Homo sapiens: one gene and its partners. The protein of the gene in region 3 interacts with the protein of the main gene of each other region in a biochemical or structural test. Each region holds a gene or a part of one and is shown on either strand. Other genes may lie near its edges.

Region 1 (4,089 bases), about 100 Mb from region 3:
CTTCCCATCATACTGTTAAGCAGGCCAAAACTTGAAATTACTGGGTTGGTCTTTGTTTGTAGTTTTCAGCTCCCAGATGATGACTTTTTCTGTTGCCTGCTTTCTCCCCAAGAGCTCTAGCTTACTTATGTGAGTACATGCACGTAGGTCTCTTTCATGTCACACTCTTTCGATGCTTTTGCCCAATCGTTCCCTTGGTTTGCAGAGTTTCTCCATCACTCTGTCTTGTTTTCCTAACTACCTACTCATGTCGCAAGACTCAGCTTAAACAGCATTTATTTCTTGCAGCCTTTACTGACACACCCTGTCCCCAACAGTGTTAAGGGCATCCTGTTTTTGTTACTAGGACATTTTATATCATCACTGAAGCAGCTATGTATTGAAACTGGAGTTAAATGCCCATATCTCCTATCAGCTTATGAGGGACTCAAAGTCAAAAGCCTTTTCATTATTGGATCTCATCTACCAGACTGCTTTTGCACAAACTACTTGTTCACTGTGTTGATAACATGGTTTGACGGGAAGAGGGGATGTAGGTTTTGGAATCCAAAGACCTGAATATGAACATAGGCTCTGCCACTTATTAGCTGTGTGCCAGTCTGAAAACCATATAACCTTTGTGATTCTAGTTCTTTCTATTTGGCATAAAAGTCATTCAGTCTACCTTGCTGTGAAGATTAAAAGAGATGATGTAAATTCCTGGCTCTGTAGGAGCTCAAAAAATGATAGTTACAGTTCAACTGATTAAATAATGAAAAGGGTTCCTGCTGTGAGCATCTGATGGTCATGATAATGTCTGAAGTACTTTATTTTTTAATTGTTCAGCCACGAGGAGGGGTGGAAGAAGGCCCTACAGTATTGAGAAAGGCTGGTCTGCTTGAGAAACTTAAAGAACAAGGTAATTTTTAAGTTGAAAAATGATCAGCCTGATTTCCTCCCCACTCTGAAGGAAAGAGCAGGCCCCTGTGAACCTGGAGTGTGTCTGGAATATTTACATCAGAATTGCGGTACTGGTTACAACCCGAGAAACACATCCTACAAAAGCAGCAGGGCATGGGGAGAATGCTCAGGAAACATTGCTGGATGTACATCCTCACTCAGATATTTTGTCTTTCCAGCCAAACTACAGTATAAGATAAATTGTGTGTGCAAGAACGGGGGTTGGGGTGGATGGTAGGGGAGCCGGGGGAACAGCAAATGGAAGGCAAGGTGCAGCAGGAAGTATGCTACTAGCAAGAGGACCCCTATTTGTGAAATAAAATAAAATAAAACAGTAATAATGATAATAACAACAGCGCCTAGTGTGGGCGCAGTGTGTATATATACATACATATACATAAGCATGCAAATGCAAATTTACGTATATTTTTAAAGTATGGGCTCAATTTTCTGTTACCTTTACATATAAGATTCTGATAAAGTGTTGGTCAGGATGTGGAGAAACTGGAACCCTCATATATTTCTGATGGGAATGCAAATGATACAGCCACTTTGAAAGTAGGTGGGCAGTTTCTCAGGTAAACATATATTTACATTTTGACCCAGCAGTTCTACTCCTGGGTGCAGAGAAGTACAACTACAAACATTCAAGTACAAGTCTTTGTGTGGATATGTTTTCATTTCTCTTGGGTAAGAGATTTGTGCTTGAATGTTTGGGGGCAGCCATATTTATAATAACCAAAAAATGGAAACAGCAAAATGCCCATCAACTGGTAGATGGTTAAACAAAAAGTGTCACATCCATGCAACGAGATAGTATTCAACAATAAAAAGGAATGGACTGGTCGGGCACGGTGGCTGAGGCCTGTAATCCTATCACTTTGGGAAGCCAAGGTGGGTGGACTGTCTGAGCTCAGGAGTTCAAGACCAGCCTGGGCAACACAGTGAAACCCCTTCTCTAGTAAAAATACAAAAAAAAATAGCTGGGCGTGGTGGCATGAGCCTGTAGTCCCAGCTACTTGGGAGGCTGAGGCAGGAGAATGGCTTGAACCCGGAGGCAGAGGTTGCAGTGAGCTGAGATTGCGCCACTGCACCCCAACCTGGGCGACAGAGCGAGACTCCATCTCCAAAAAAAAAAAAAAAAGAAAAAGGAATGGACCGCAAACACAGGCAAAAACATGGTAGATCTCAAAAGCAGCATGATAAGACAAGAAAGACTACATGTATGATTCCACTGATACGACATTCTGGAAAGACAAAAGCATAGCAAAAGAAAGCAGATCAGCAGTTCCTGGGGTTGGGGGCAAGAATTACCTCTAAAGGGGCAGGATGGAATTTTTCAAACTCATTGACCCGCACAGTTAAAATTAGTGAGTTTTAGTGAACAAGAATTACACTTCGTAAATCTTTAAAAAAAAAAAAAAAAGACAAATACAGACACCCAGTAGAGAACAGAATGCTTGGGTAATGGACTTGTCCCTTAACTGACAAGCATAATTTGGTCACGTGTTGTATCAGGTGAAATTTCTTGGAGGCGTTACTAAATCAGATTCACACAGACATGTAACAAATACCATATTTAATGGCCAATTAGTTCAGAACACCGAACTGAATCACAGTTTTACATGACACTCTCTACTTTTCAAGCCTAATTCAAGGCCTTTTAGGGAGCACACCCAGTCCTTAGGAATTTGGGGTTACCTGCAATTTTTCCTTACTAAAAAGAATAACTAAAAAGCTTTATTTCCGAAGCTTCCAAAGTGTTAGGCTCAGTGCTAAGTACATATTCACATATTCTTATTTATTTATGATAATACCACTATGAGGCAGGTTCAATGGATACTTTGTGTGTCTGTGTGTGTGTGTATCTCCAGATGAAAATACACCAGTGCTTTCTAAATTTTCTGAGAATACATATATATACCGATATATATGTATTTAATTATTATCAAAATGAAGCATGCTTACTATAGAAAGGTAAAAAGCACATAAGCAGAGAGAGACAGAGAGACAGAGACAGAGACAGTGGCATTCCCTATTAAGCCCAAACCAGAAGATTATCACTGTTACATTTTGGTGTCTAGTTTAACTGGATGGATTCAAGAAGTGTTCACTGAGAGCCCAGTATACAGCCGCACCAGTGTGTGATACTGGTAACATGACGTCAAGCAAAAGCAGACATGGGTCTACCTTCCCAAGATTTACAGACCTTTCAGGTTTTTCCTTTGCTTATACTTGTGAATATATGCCTATTTTATACAATTGAGATCATCCTACACAGACTGATTTATAATCTACTTTTTAATTTAGTAACTCAAAACTTTTTAATTTTAGAGTGTGATGTGAAGGATTATGGGGACCTGCCCTTTGCTGACATCCCTAATGACAGTCCCTTTCAAATTGTGAAGAATCCAAGGTCTGTGGGAAAAGCAAGCGAGCAGCTGGCTGGCAAGGTGGCAGAAGTCAAGAAGAACGGAAGAATCAGCCTGGTGCTGGGCGGAGACCACAGGTCTTGTTGAATAACTGTGTCTATGGGAATCTGGCACAAAGGAAGTAACCAAGGCCATAAGAAGAGAGAAAATTTAGAAATATAGACAGAAAAGCATTGACCTATATTTTATATCAAATTTTCTGCCTTTAAAAAAATTTTATAGGTTACTTTTATTATAGAAACAGACTTCGCTCAATTTGAAGTCTTACAATATCTGTATTTTGACCTAGTACAGCAGAAAATGTATGAAATATGAATGGATTTCATCTAAATATTCATCACAAGCTTACATTTCTAAATAAGTATGTGAGGCAATTCATAGCTTATTTGTTCTTAATTGCCGATAATATATACAACTCATATAGGTCAACAATTTCAAAGCATGTGTTTTTCATTATAAAAGTAATGATCATAACATTTTTGAAAGCATCAGACACACACACACAAGAAAAAAAATGTGGTAATTGTACTTCTCTAGCAACCATTTCAACCAGAATTGAAAATCTGGCACATTTCTTTCATGGCATCTTTTTTTTCCTTGTACATGATGACTTTGTTTAACGTGTGTGTGTGTGTGTATGTGTGTGTGTGAGAGAGAGAGAGAGAGAGACAGATGTCTATGTTGTGTTCTCACTCTACAGTGCAAATTTCCTTGTTGC
Region 2 (4,089 bases), on a different chromosome or scaffold from region 3:
CCTTTTGCTACAAAACTGAAGTGTCTTAATCTTACACATATTGAAACATCTGCTAAAATGCCGTTGACCTTCTGTCAACAGGGAGCTTCCTCTGCAGAAGGGAGATATTGTTTACATTTATAAGCAAATTGATCAGAACTGGTATGAAGGAGAACACCACGGCCGGGTGGGAATCTTCCCACGCACCTACATCGAGGTACCGCAGCCTCTTTTCTTTCTAAGGAAAAGCCTGACAGTGCCCAAAGCACCATTTATTTACCAAATGCTTATGTTTTGTTTCCTCCTTTTCCTCTTGTTTCCCTGCTTTCTTCTCTTCCCTTGTTCTCTTTTACCTCTTTCCCTTTCTCAGCTTCTTCCTCCTGCTGAGAAGGCACAGCCCAAAAAGTTGACACCAGTGCAGGTTTTGGAATATGGAGAAGCTATTGCTAAGTTTAACTTTAATGGTGATACACAAGTAGAAATGTCCTTCAGAAAGGTAAGCTGCACTTCTCATGCCTTGCTTTGGGGCTCTCTTGGATGGCGCAGCTATGTGGGGAAGCGTGGTGTTGCTATCACACCCCAGTCTGGGGGTGCTGTCTGTACCCTTAAGAGAAGTATGCCAATCAATAATTGCATTAAGGGCTGGGCACGGTGGCTCATGCCTGTAATCCCAGCACTTTGGGAGGCCGAGGTGGGTAGATCACTTGAGGTCAGGCGTTTGAGACTAGCCTGGCCAACATGGTGAAACCCCGTCTCTACTAAAAATACAAAAATTAGCTGGGCATGGTAGTGGGTTCCTGTAATCCCAGCTATTCAGGAGGCTGAGGCAGGAGAATCATTTGAACCTGGGAGACAGAGGTTGCAGTGAGCTGAGATCGCTCCACTGCACTCCAGCCTGGGCAATAGGTCTCCAAAAAAAAAAAAAAGAATTGCATTAAGGCCTGTAATCCCAGCACTTTGGGAAACCAAGGCAGGAGGCTCGCTTAAGGCCAGGGGTTCAAGACCAGCCTGAGCAACGTAGCAAGGCCCCATCTCTACTGAAGAAAAAAAAAAAAAGAATTGCATTAAGGGCAATTGGAGAATTTTCTGAGGTAAGGTATTTTTAAAATAAACCCTAGGCTAATATCAGGGTTTAACTATATTGAGCTCACTGATTAAACATAGTATTTCTGGAGTCTTAGACATCTTTTATAAGCTGTTTTCAACCAACACTTACCAACTAATGATGTCATAATGCATTGTGTTGGGGACTGGGTTTTACAATATATTGGTGTGACCTAGTGGAAAAAACAGGTCCATTGATACCAGGAGAAGTTTGAAAAGCTTTGAACCCAAAAGGCACAAACCAACTACGCAGAATGTGGGAGTTAAATACTTTTTCCAAGCCACCATTTTCTTATAGAAAAAAAATGAAGATAGATGGCTCTCTCCTAGGTGGTTGTAAGAGGCTTCGGTGAAACAACTTATGTGAAGCCCCCAGCATGACACATGGTATCTTGTTGGTGCTTAGTAAACAGGAGATGCCAGTATTATTATTATCACCATCATGCTTATTCAGAACATAATTACATTGTGCAGAGAAGTTGTTCTTTCCAGAATCCAAACACTCTACATGGCAAAATTCTCTGGCTTGCTAAAGTTACTAAGTTACTGATTTTATTGAGGCTTGAGGGAAGTGAGCACATTGTTAGAAAAAGCACTGGAAGCAACCCAGTTGCCCAACAGCAGGGGATCAGTAATTAAATCATTATATGTGTGTGCGACAGAATACCCTGCAGTGGTCCATTAAGCTATGCAATGCCATTAAAAATCTAGAATTCTATTTCTTGATAAAGAAGGAGGTTTACTATGTGCTATTAAGTATTTTTTAAAAAGCAAGTTGGAAAAGGGAAACACAGTTCATACTCAATTTTTATAAGAAAAAATATGTGCAGGTTTAATTCACATGCATAGAAGTAAATCTGGGGAGTCCATATGCCAAATATTAAGTGTTTATCCCCAAATGACTATGTGATGGGTGATGATTGTTTTCTGCTTTACGTTTGTGTTCTGATTTTTCTATAATGATACATTATAAGTATCTATAATGCTACAAAAGAAAGAAAAAGTGAAACCCCCCAAAATCTTTGCCTTAGAAATGAAGATTGGGTATCTGTTTCACATTAAATGAGTCAAAAACACTACATTTGTTCCCTGGCTTAGGGACACAAATCTGATGTTCTCCTTTACTAAAATACTTAAAGAACCAAGCTGAACTTCCCAGCATCAAGATAGCTCCTCTGCCATTAGCATCCTCATCCCAGTGGTGTTAATTCCCTCCAGGTTCAGCAGGGAAGGTTTTTCCTGAGCTAAGGATGTGATAAACAATGCAGGACATTGAAGCATGCAGGCAGAGGCCCCAGGCATGCAGAGGCATGCTAGGACAAGGACCCTCTCTTTGCTGTGTCTTCCAGGGTGAGAGGATCACACTGCTCCGGCAGGTAGATGAGAACTGGTACGAAGGGAGGATCCCGGGGACATCCCGACAAGGCATCTTCCCCATCACCTACGTGGATGTGATCAAGCGACCACTGGTGAAAAACCCTGTGGATTACATGGACCTGCCTTTCTCCTCCTCCCCAAGTCGCAGTGCCACTGCAAGCCCACAGGTATCTAAGCTTCTCGTCACTGGTTTTCATACTCAGCATGTGAATTTTTGTAGTCAACAGTGCTGATGGCACACAGCCTCTCTGGGGAGGTTTTTGAGCACTGCAATTAAAAACTGTCTGCAGGAGGCCGGGTGTGGTGGCTCATGCCTGTAATCCCAGCACTTTGGGAGGCCGAGGCGGGTGAATCACCTGAGGTCAGGAGTTCAAGATCAGCCTGGCAACATGGTGAAACCCCATCTCTACCAAAAATTCAAAAATTAGCCAGGCGTGGTGGCGGGCGCCTGTAGTCCCAGCTACTCGGGAGGTTGAGGCAGGAGAATCGCTTAAACCTGGGAGGCAGAGGTTGCAGTGAGCCGAGATCATGCCACTGCACTCCAGCCTGGACGACAGAGCGAGACTCCATCTCAAAAAAAAAAAAACTGCAGGAAAGCAGACTGTACACTGGACTTTGTCTTTATGCATACAAATGGCCTTTTCCAGTGCTTGGTTGCAGATATATCTCAAGGGAAAAGGAATAGTCAAGTAATTGCTCTGGGAATAAGGTGACTAGGGAAAGAGAAACAGAGAAACAAGAGCCTTTATCAGTTGGCCCCTCTTGGGTGAAGCTGTTGGTGTGGGTACCACCACTGTGTCATAAATCCCATGGTCCAAATGCGGTCCTCAGTCATCTTGGCCAAAGTTGACCTGCAGAAGACAAAGGCTGAAAGAGAGACTTACACCTTCTCATCAGCCATATAGACCAGATCCAAAGTATTATTTGCATTCACTGGAACCAGGTGATTGGAACAAGTAACTTACAGCATCTCAGTCTCTGTGGGCTGAAAGGATATAGGTTTATAGGCGTAATAAGATGTTGGCTTTCCCAAACATTAATTATGAACAAACTTGTTTAGAAATATAAACTATTCCTAACTGATCCCCACTTTCCCAAAGCCAAGAAAATGTCAGAACCTTGAGTTCAGGGTGACACGGTGGGGGTGACATCCCTGTGAAAGAGCCTGGACAAACCACCATGTATGTTGTAAGGAGGTTGGCAGAGGAACAAGAGTAGGACCTGGGGGCCCAGGTTGACCCTGAGATGGTGCCTCTTGTCTGGTCCTCTAATTGTTTCCTCCTCTGCCACCTGCTCATCACTGACCCCAGTAGAGGGTTCTTGGCAGAAAGCATTAAACGGGCTGACCCAGGGCTTCCTGGACAGTGATAGCCGCATCCTGTTGTCTTATAGGACAGAGTGTGTGACTGGAGTGGGACATTCTTCTTTGTAAGGATGCAGGGAACTCAACTACATTTTTCACTTGACTAGCCAAGAGTGATTGTAAAACAAAACTAGTACACTACTCATACTCCTCTCTGGAAGACTCTGCTGAGCTCCCAGAGAAAATAAAACCCCAGGGAAGGGCCATGGCAGTGTGGGGCCACCTTTCCCCGTATGGTTCCGGGTCAGGGATCTGGATGCACAGGG
Region 3 (3,329 bases):
TAGGGGCCCGAGCCCGAGCCGAGGCTGAGCAGATGGCCAAGAAGGCAGAAGCCTTCCAGCTGTACCAAGAGGCTGCTCAGCTGGACATGCTGCTAGAGAAGCTGCCCCAGGTCTGGAGGTCATGTGGGCACCAAGAAAGGAGGAAATAGAACCAGGGACTAAGGGGTGGGGTGTAGTGAGGGGCTTAGGGAGAAACAGCCTAGGGGGACTCTAAATTAGGGGTGGGAATTATTAGTGACCAAAGTGAGGAAGGATGATCAGTGGAACGAGGACCTTAAAACCCAGAGTAAGTTGTTTTATGAGGAATGTGGTCAGATCATGGGCACTGAGTGGGTGTCTCTCTCCTGCCAGGTGGCAGAGGAGATCAGTGGTCCCTTGACTTCAGCCAATAAGATCACACTGGTGTCCAGCGGCAGTGGGACCATGGGGGCAGCCAAAGTGACTGGGGAAGTACTGGACATTCTAACTCGCCTGCCAGAGAGTGTGGAAAGACTCACAGGCGTGAGCATCTCCCAGGTGAGGTCTCAGGTTGGAGCTGAGGAGAATTGCTAGGTTCCTGTGTTGTGTGACACAGTATGCCTAGCATTTAACCAGCATCCAGGCCTGGGAGTCATTGATGTTTATTAATCACTTTCTGTGTGCCAGACACAGTGCTAAGCTTCTACATAAATGAGTTGTTTTAAATCAAACTACCATTAGGGTATATAGGATTTTACAAAGTCCAGAAACTCAACATCCAGCATGTTCCTACTCATTCTGCTAGTGCAGCTGGAGTGAAATCCAGGTCGACTGTCTCTGCAACCTGTGCTTGTGGTCACCCCACTAGTATAGGGAACTAGTTGCAGCCTATTGACAGTTAATTAATTCTAGGGCATATCACTGCTTTTCTCAGCGCCCCAGTTAATTCACCTGTAGATCATGGTAGAAGTCAGCAAACAGGCTCTGGAACCACTGTTTTGTTGCGAATCCTAGCTACAATGCCTGCTAGCTGTAATCTTGGACAAGTAATCAACCTCTCTATACCTGTTTCCTCATCTTAAAATTGGGTTAATAATTAGAAACTACCCTGTTGAATTGTTGAGGGGCTCGAGCAAATATTTGCAGTGTTTAGAATAGTGCCTGGTATATAGTAAGCATTATGTGTATGTTAAAGAAATGGGGCCAGGTGCAGTGGCTTACGCCTGTAATCCCAGCACTTTGGGAGGCTGAGGCAGGCAGATCACCTGAGGTTAGGAGTTGGAGACCAGCCTGGCCAACATGGTGAAACACCATCTTTACTAAAAATACAAAAAAAAATTAGCCAGGCTTGGTGGTGCATGCCTGTAATCTCAGCTACTCGGGAAGCTGAGGCAGGAGAATTGCTGGAACCCAGGAGCCGAAGGTTGCAGTGAGCTGAGATCACACCACTGCACTCCAGCCTGGGTGACAGAATAAGACTCTATCTCAAAAAAAAAAAAAAATTCCAGGCGCGGTAGCTCATGCCTGTAATCCCAGCACTTTGGGAGGCTGAGGCGGGCGGATCACGAGGTCAGGAGATTGAGACCATCCTGGCTAACACAGTGAAACCCCGTCTCTACTAAAAATACAAAACAGCCGGGCGTGGCGGTGTGTGCCTGTAGTCCCAGCTGCTGGGGAGGCTGAGGCAGGAGAATGGTGTGAACCTGGGAGGCAGAGCTTGCAGTGAGCCGAGATAGCACCACTGCACTCCATCCTAGGCAACAGAGCAAGACTCTGTCTCAAAAAAAAAAAGAGAAAGAAATGCATATTCGGGCTGGGTGCTGTGGCTCACACTTGTAATCCCAGAACTTTGGGAGGCCAGGGTGGACGATCAGCTGAGGTCAGAAGTTTGAGATCACCCTGGCCAACATGGTGATACCCCATCTCTACCAAAAATACAAAAATTAGCTGGGTATGGTGGCGCATACCTGTAATCCCAGCTACTCGGGAGGCTGAGGCAGGAGAATCACTTGAACTCAGGAGGCGGAGGCTGCAGTAAGCCAAGATCGCACCACTGCATTCTAGCCTGGGTGATAGAGTGAGATTCCGTCTCAAAAAAAAAAAGAAAAAAAAAAAGCGTATGTAAATAAAAGCACTGGATCATACCAATGACCTTCAAGCTGGGTTCCTTGGAGCCTCCTGGAGGCCTGCAGTAGAATATTCAGAGCTAAGGAGAGTGTGCAAACAAGGCTCTGCCCCCTCTCCTCTCTTCAGTGATTTATTGTATGTGGGTCCTGATGTCTTTGTTTGGGGAAACAGGTGGTAGGGCACCAGAAAGAACCCTGGCCGTGTGTGTTCTGCCTATAGCCCATTCGTCTAAACTGGGGCCCGGGAGAGTAGGGGCCTCAGCCTCCCGAATGTTCCCAAGTGTCATCTACTGTTGTCTTTTTGCCAGGTGAATCACAAGCCTTTGAGAACAGCCTGAGCCTTCAGCCCTCACAGATGCCCAGCCTCATAGCTGAAGTTGCCTGAATGATCCTCCTGTTGCATGTAACCCACTGGCCTCCCTGAGCATGTCCATTGACAGTGAGGTCCCACCCCTCATCTCTCCTTGCCAAATAGTTTGTGCCTTGTCTTGAAGGGGGTTGCTCCCCTTGCCAACCTCACACTGCTATGATTGCCAACTCCAGCGGTCCCATGTCAGCCTTCTGATGATCCCACTCCACCCCACCTCAACTTATTTAACTTCCTAATTAAATCAGACTGTTTGAGCCTGTTGTCTAGAATATTTTCCTGACCAAGACTGAGGGATGGGCTGGAGGTTTTCAACTTTGCTACCCAAATAAATTGCTGTAAGTAAGTACTAATAAAACAGAAGCAACTGGAAATTAATGCTTGGCCCGGCACAGTGGCTCATGCCTGTAATCCCAGCACTTTGGGAGGCCAAGGCAGGCAGATCATCTGAGGTCAGGAGTTCAAGACCAGCCTGGCCAACATGACGAAACCTTGTCTCTACCAAAAATACAAAAATTAGCCAGGCAGGGTGAAACATGCCAAGTAGTAGTCCCAGCTACTTGGGAGGCTGAGGCAGGAGAATTACTTGAACCTGGGAAGCAGAGGTTGCAGTGAGCCAAGATCGCACCACTGCACTCTAGCCTAGGTGACAGAGTGAGACTGTTTCAAAAAAAAAGAGAAAAAAAATGAATGCTAGACTCAGGTATGGTGACTCTTGCCTATAGTCCTAGCTACTTGGGAGGCTAAGGTGGGAGGATCACTTGAGCTCAGGAGTCTAAGGCTGTAGTGAGCCATGATCACACCACTGCATTCCAGCCTGGGTGACAAAGCAAGATCCTGGCTCTATTAGAAAGAAAATGAATGCTAGAATGTAGCTT
Region 4 (3,931 bases), on a different chromosome or scaffold from region 3:
CTTTGAATTGGGGGTAGGTGGGTGGGTGGCTCTTTAGCAAGGGGCTGAAATACTGCTTGCAGCACATTCCACCCCGGTCATCAGACAAAGGCACCCTCAGAGCTACCCCCTGCTCCTTCTCAGGCTCCATCTGGCCTGAGCACCCTGCCCCAGCGAGTCCTCCGGAAAGAGCCTGTCACCCCATCTGCACTTGTCCTCATGAGCCGCTCCAATGTCCAGCCCACAGGTAACTGGCGCAAGGGGGAGAGGACTGAGCTGGGGAGATGACCGTCTGTGGGAGGGTTTAGGGATGAGAAGGTCATCCCTGTTCGCATTCAACCTACCTGTTCTCTCCTTAGCTGCCCCTGGCCAGAAGGTGATGGAGAATAGCAGTGGGACACCCGACATCTTAACGTAAGTGCCCCAAGCCTGGGGGTGGACGGGGGTGAGGGGACAATGAACAGGCAGGAAGTCGGGGAGATAAAACCTAAGCACGGGAGGAGTAGGGATGAAGACAAGTGGGGCGGAGGACAGGATGGGATGAGGAAGCAGAGAGAAAGCAAACCTCTTAATAACCAAAACCGGTTCTGAGTTGCCTTCCTCCACTTTCTAAGCAGGCGGCACTTCACAATTGATGACTTTGAGATTGGGCGTCCTCTGGGCAAAGGCAAGTTTGGAAACGTGTACTTGGCTCGGGAGAAGAAAAGCCATTTCATCGTGGCGCTCAAGGTCCTCTTCAAGTCCCAGATAGAGAAGGAGGGCGTGGAGCATCAGCTGCGCAGAGAGATCGAAATCCAGGCCCACCTGCAGTATGGGTTGATGCCCCCTGAGCCGAAGCCCCTCTGCTCCCTCACCCCCAGCTCCTCATTCAGCCCCACTTCATCCAGATTGCTTTCTCTGTAGCTATGGCTAGTGAGCCCCATTTAGCTCTTAGTCCTGGCAAGCCTTGAATCCAGAAATCTGCCTCCAGTTTCCCCTTACCACTCCCAGCCCTGGTGTCCCCGGCCTGGGCCACGTCTGACCCCAGTTTGCTCCTATCATCTTTTCCAGCTCTTTTATGCCTTTGGCCTGAGGCCTCCTCTGTCTCTTCCCCCAGCCATCCCAACATCCTGCGTCTCTACAACTATTTTTATGACCGGAGGAGGATCTACTTGATTCTAGAGTATGCCCCCCGCGGGGAGCTCTACAAGGAGCTGCAGAAGAGCTGCACATTTGACGAGCAGCGAACAGCCACGGTCCGGGCGGGTGGGCACCTGGGGCGCCAGTAGGGGGCTCGAGGCTGAGGGTGTGCTGCTTGTAGCTGGAGGTCCATCCTTGTCTGATTGCCTGTCGTTGCCCCTCCCAGATCATGGAGGAGTTGGCAGATGCTCTAATGTACTGCCATGGGAAGAAGGTGATTCACAGAGACATAAAGCCAGAAAATCTGCTCTTAGGGCTCAAGGGAGAGCTGAAGATTGCTGACTTCGGCTGGTCTGTGCATGCGCCCTCCCTGAGGTATGGTGGCCTGGGAGGCCAGACCTGGGTGTGAGGCTGGGCCATTAAAACCTCTCCAGGGGCCGTGCACCGTGGCTCACACCTGTAATCCCAGCACTTTGGGAGGCCGAGGAGGGCGGATCACCTGAGGTCAGGAGTTCGAGACTAGATTTGCCAACATGATGAAACCTTGTCTCTACTAAATATACAAAAATTAGCCGGCCATGGTGGCGGACGCCAGTAATCCCAGCTACTGGGGAGGCTGAGGCAGGAGAATTGTTTGAACCTGGGAGGCGGAGGTTGCAGTGAGCCGAGATTACGCCATTGCACTCCAGCCTGTGTGACAGATCGAGACTCTGTCTCAAAAAAAAAAAAAAAAAATGGTTAGAGTGTGGTGCTAATAACCCCAAGGTCGCAGGTTTGATCCCTGTAGGGGCCAATGGTAAAACTTTGGCCAGGCGCGGTGGCTCACGCCTACCAGTCCCAGCACTTTGGGAGGCCAAGGCGGGTGGATCACTTGAGGCCAGGAGTTCAAGACCAGCGGACCAGCCTGGCCAACATGATGAAACCCCATCTTTACTAAAAACACAAAATTTATTAAGCAGACATGGTGGTGCACACTTGTAATCCCAGCTGTTCGGGAGGCTGAGACATGAGAATCACTTGAACCCGGGAGGCAGAGGTTGCAGTGAGCCAAGATCGCCCCACTGCACTCCAGCCTGGACTCTCTCAAAAAAAGCCCGGAGCAGTGGCCTTTTTTCCTCCCACATCACTTTTTAATGGTTTCATAGTATCACATAGTAGCTGATTTATTTAACCAGAACATGCCTGATGGGCATTAGAGATGTCCCCAGTGAACTCCAAATGAACACTGCCCTCATATCAGGGTATCTTATTAAGATATATCCTTCAGTGTGGAGTTGCTGGGCTGTGTGCAGGCTCACCTCTGGGGCTTTGGGATATATCATCACCCCAACCCCACCCCCACTCCAGTGGCCTTGCCTGGCTGGACCTCTCCCCTGGTACATCCCGTGGTCTTTTGGCTCCCAGCCGTCAGGCAGCAGGGAAAGGAGAGTTCCTATGTCACTAGGACCCCTGCCCACGCCCCTTATCCCTCCCAGGAGGAAGACAATGTGTGGCACCCTGGACTACCTGCCCCCAGAGATGATTGAGGGGCGCATGCACAATGAGAAGGTGGATCTGTGGTGCATTGGAGTGCTTTGCTATGAGCTGCTGGTGGGGAACCCACCCTTTGAGAGTGCATCACACAACGAGACCTATCGCCGCATCGTCAAGGTGGGAGGGCGGCCTGGGCTTCGTGCCAGCTGCTGAAGCCAGGAGCTGGGGGGCTGGGGGTGGGCAGAGTGTATTTGCATGGCCCTAAGTAACTCCAAACAGAATGGGTAGTCAAGGAAGATGTAGCCAGGGTGAAACTAATGCAGCCCTTCCATCTCTTCACACCTGCAGGTGGACCTAAAGTTCCCCGCTTCCGTGCCCATGGGAGCCCAGGACCTCATCTCCAAACTGCTCAGGCATAACCCCTCGGAACGGCTGCCCCTGGCCCAGGTCTCAGCCCACCCTTGGGTCCGGGCCAACTCTCGGAGGGTGCTGCCTCCCTCTGCCCTTCAATCTGTCGCCTGATGGTCCCTGTCATTCACTCGGGTGCGTGTGTTTGTATGTCTGTGTATGTATAGGGGAAAGAAGGGATCCCTAACTGTTCCCTTATCTGTTTTCTACCTCCTCCTTTGTTTAATAAAGGCTGAAGCTTTTTGTACTCATGAGTGTAGATGTTTCTAGGTGGAGGCTTTGCTGTGGAGGAAGCTGTTCCCTAGAAGGAGAGCTGGCTCACCCTGAGGAGCCGGGATGAGCATTACTTTGCTATCCCTGGTAACACCCTACCCTCTCAGCTCTGACACCCACCTGGTCAGCTCCCAGCCACCCCAACCCCTACCCCCACTTCCACCTCTACCCTCACTGTCTATTCTTTCCGTTGCTCAGACTCCCACAGCCCAGGGGCACTGGGGGCCCTGGCTCCCCATTGCTACATTGGAACACCAGCCATCTCTGGCCACCTTCTTTCACCTCTCTCTTGGTTGTCCAACTTCTAGTTTTTCCTTTTCTGTTTCATTCTCTGCCCCTTTGCCAACGTAGGAGCAACTAAACAGTTCTGTACCCTAGAAGCTGTCTTTGATTATTTCACTGCTCTGGTCAGGATCTAGTACAGGAGCCAATAGAAGCAGCAGTGATTCTGTCTTGTTCCTGACATGAGGTTACACTGTTATGCATGATGCTTGCTGTAGGTTTTTGATAGATACCCTTTATCAGGTTAAACAGGGCCTATTCTACTCATAGTTTACTCAGAGTCTTTAAAAAAAAAAACAAAAACAAAAAAACAGTTAAGTCTGGGCGCAGTGACTCATGCCTGTAATCCCTGCACTTTCAGAGGCCGAGGCAGGCAGATCACAAAGTCAGGAGATCG

What was found. Proteins that work in one complex are often made in the same cells at the same time.
Region 1: the proteins of FLOT1 (region 3) and ARG1 form a complex in vitro, tested with the Homo sapiens proteins (one study listed by IntAct).
Region 2: the proteins of FLOT1 (region 3) and SORBS1 form a complex in vitro, tested with the Homo sapiens proteins (2 studies listed by BioGRID).
Region 4: the proteins of FLOT1 (region 3) and AURKB form a complex in vitro, tested with the Homo sapiens proteins (one study listed by BioGRID).

Annotation. Positions count from the first base shown.
Region 1 is NC_000006.12:131,575,838-131,579,926, forward strand, and holds part of ARG1 (arginase-1), read left to right. Parts: intron 1-825; coding exon 826-898; intron 899-3,249; coding exon of another isoform or gene 3,250-3,273; coding exon 3,274-3,448; intron 3,449-4,089. UniProt on the Homo sapiens protein: Key element of the urea cycle converting L-arginine to urea and L-ornithine, which is further metabolized into metabolites proline and polyamides that drive collagen synthesis and bioenergetic pathways critical for cell proliferation, respectively; the urea cycle takes place primarily in the liver and, to a lesser extent, in the kidneys.
Region 2 is NC_000010.11:95,337,671-95,341,759, reverse strand, and holds part of SORBS1 (sorbin and SH3 domain-containing protein 1), read left to right. Parts: intron 1-81; coding exon 82-196; intron 197-349; coding exon 350-475; intron 476-2,432; coding exon 2,433-2,627; intron 2,628-4,089. UniProt on the Homo sapiens protein: Plays a role in tyrosine phosphorylation of CBL by linking CBL to the insulin receptor. Required for insulin-stimulated glucose transport. Involved in formation of actin stress fibers and focal adhesions.
Region 3 is NC_000006.12:30,727,209-30,730,537, reverse strand, and holds the end of FLOT1 (flotillin-1), read left to right. Parts: coding exon 1-110; intron 111-351; coding exon 352-516; intron 517-2,392; coding exon 2,393-2,422; 3' UTR 2,423-2,829; downstream 2,830-3,329. UniProt on the Homo sapiens protein: May act as a scaffolding protein within caveolar membranes, functionally participating in formation of caveolae or caveolae-like vesicles.
Region 4 is NC_000017.11:8,204,033-8,207,963, reverse strand, and holds the end of AURKB (aurora kinase B), read left to right. Parts: intron 1-62; exon of another isoform or gene 63-123; coding exon 124-226; intron 227-338; coding exon 339-393; intron 394-593; coding exon of another isoform or gene 594-596; coding exon 597-788; intron 789-1,029; coding exon of another isoform or gene 1,030-1,075; coding exon 1,076-1,214; coding exon of another isoform or gene 1,215-1,224; intron 1,225-1,324; coding exon 1,325-1,473; intron 1,474-2,573; coding exon 2,574-2,748; intron 2,749-2,919; coding exon 2,920-3,093; 3' UTR 3,094-3,230; downstream 3,231-3,931. UniProt on the Homo sapiens protein: Serine/threonine-protein kinase component of the chromosomal passenger complex (CPC), a complex that acts as a key regulator of mitosis.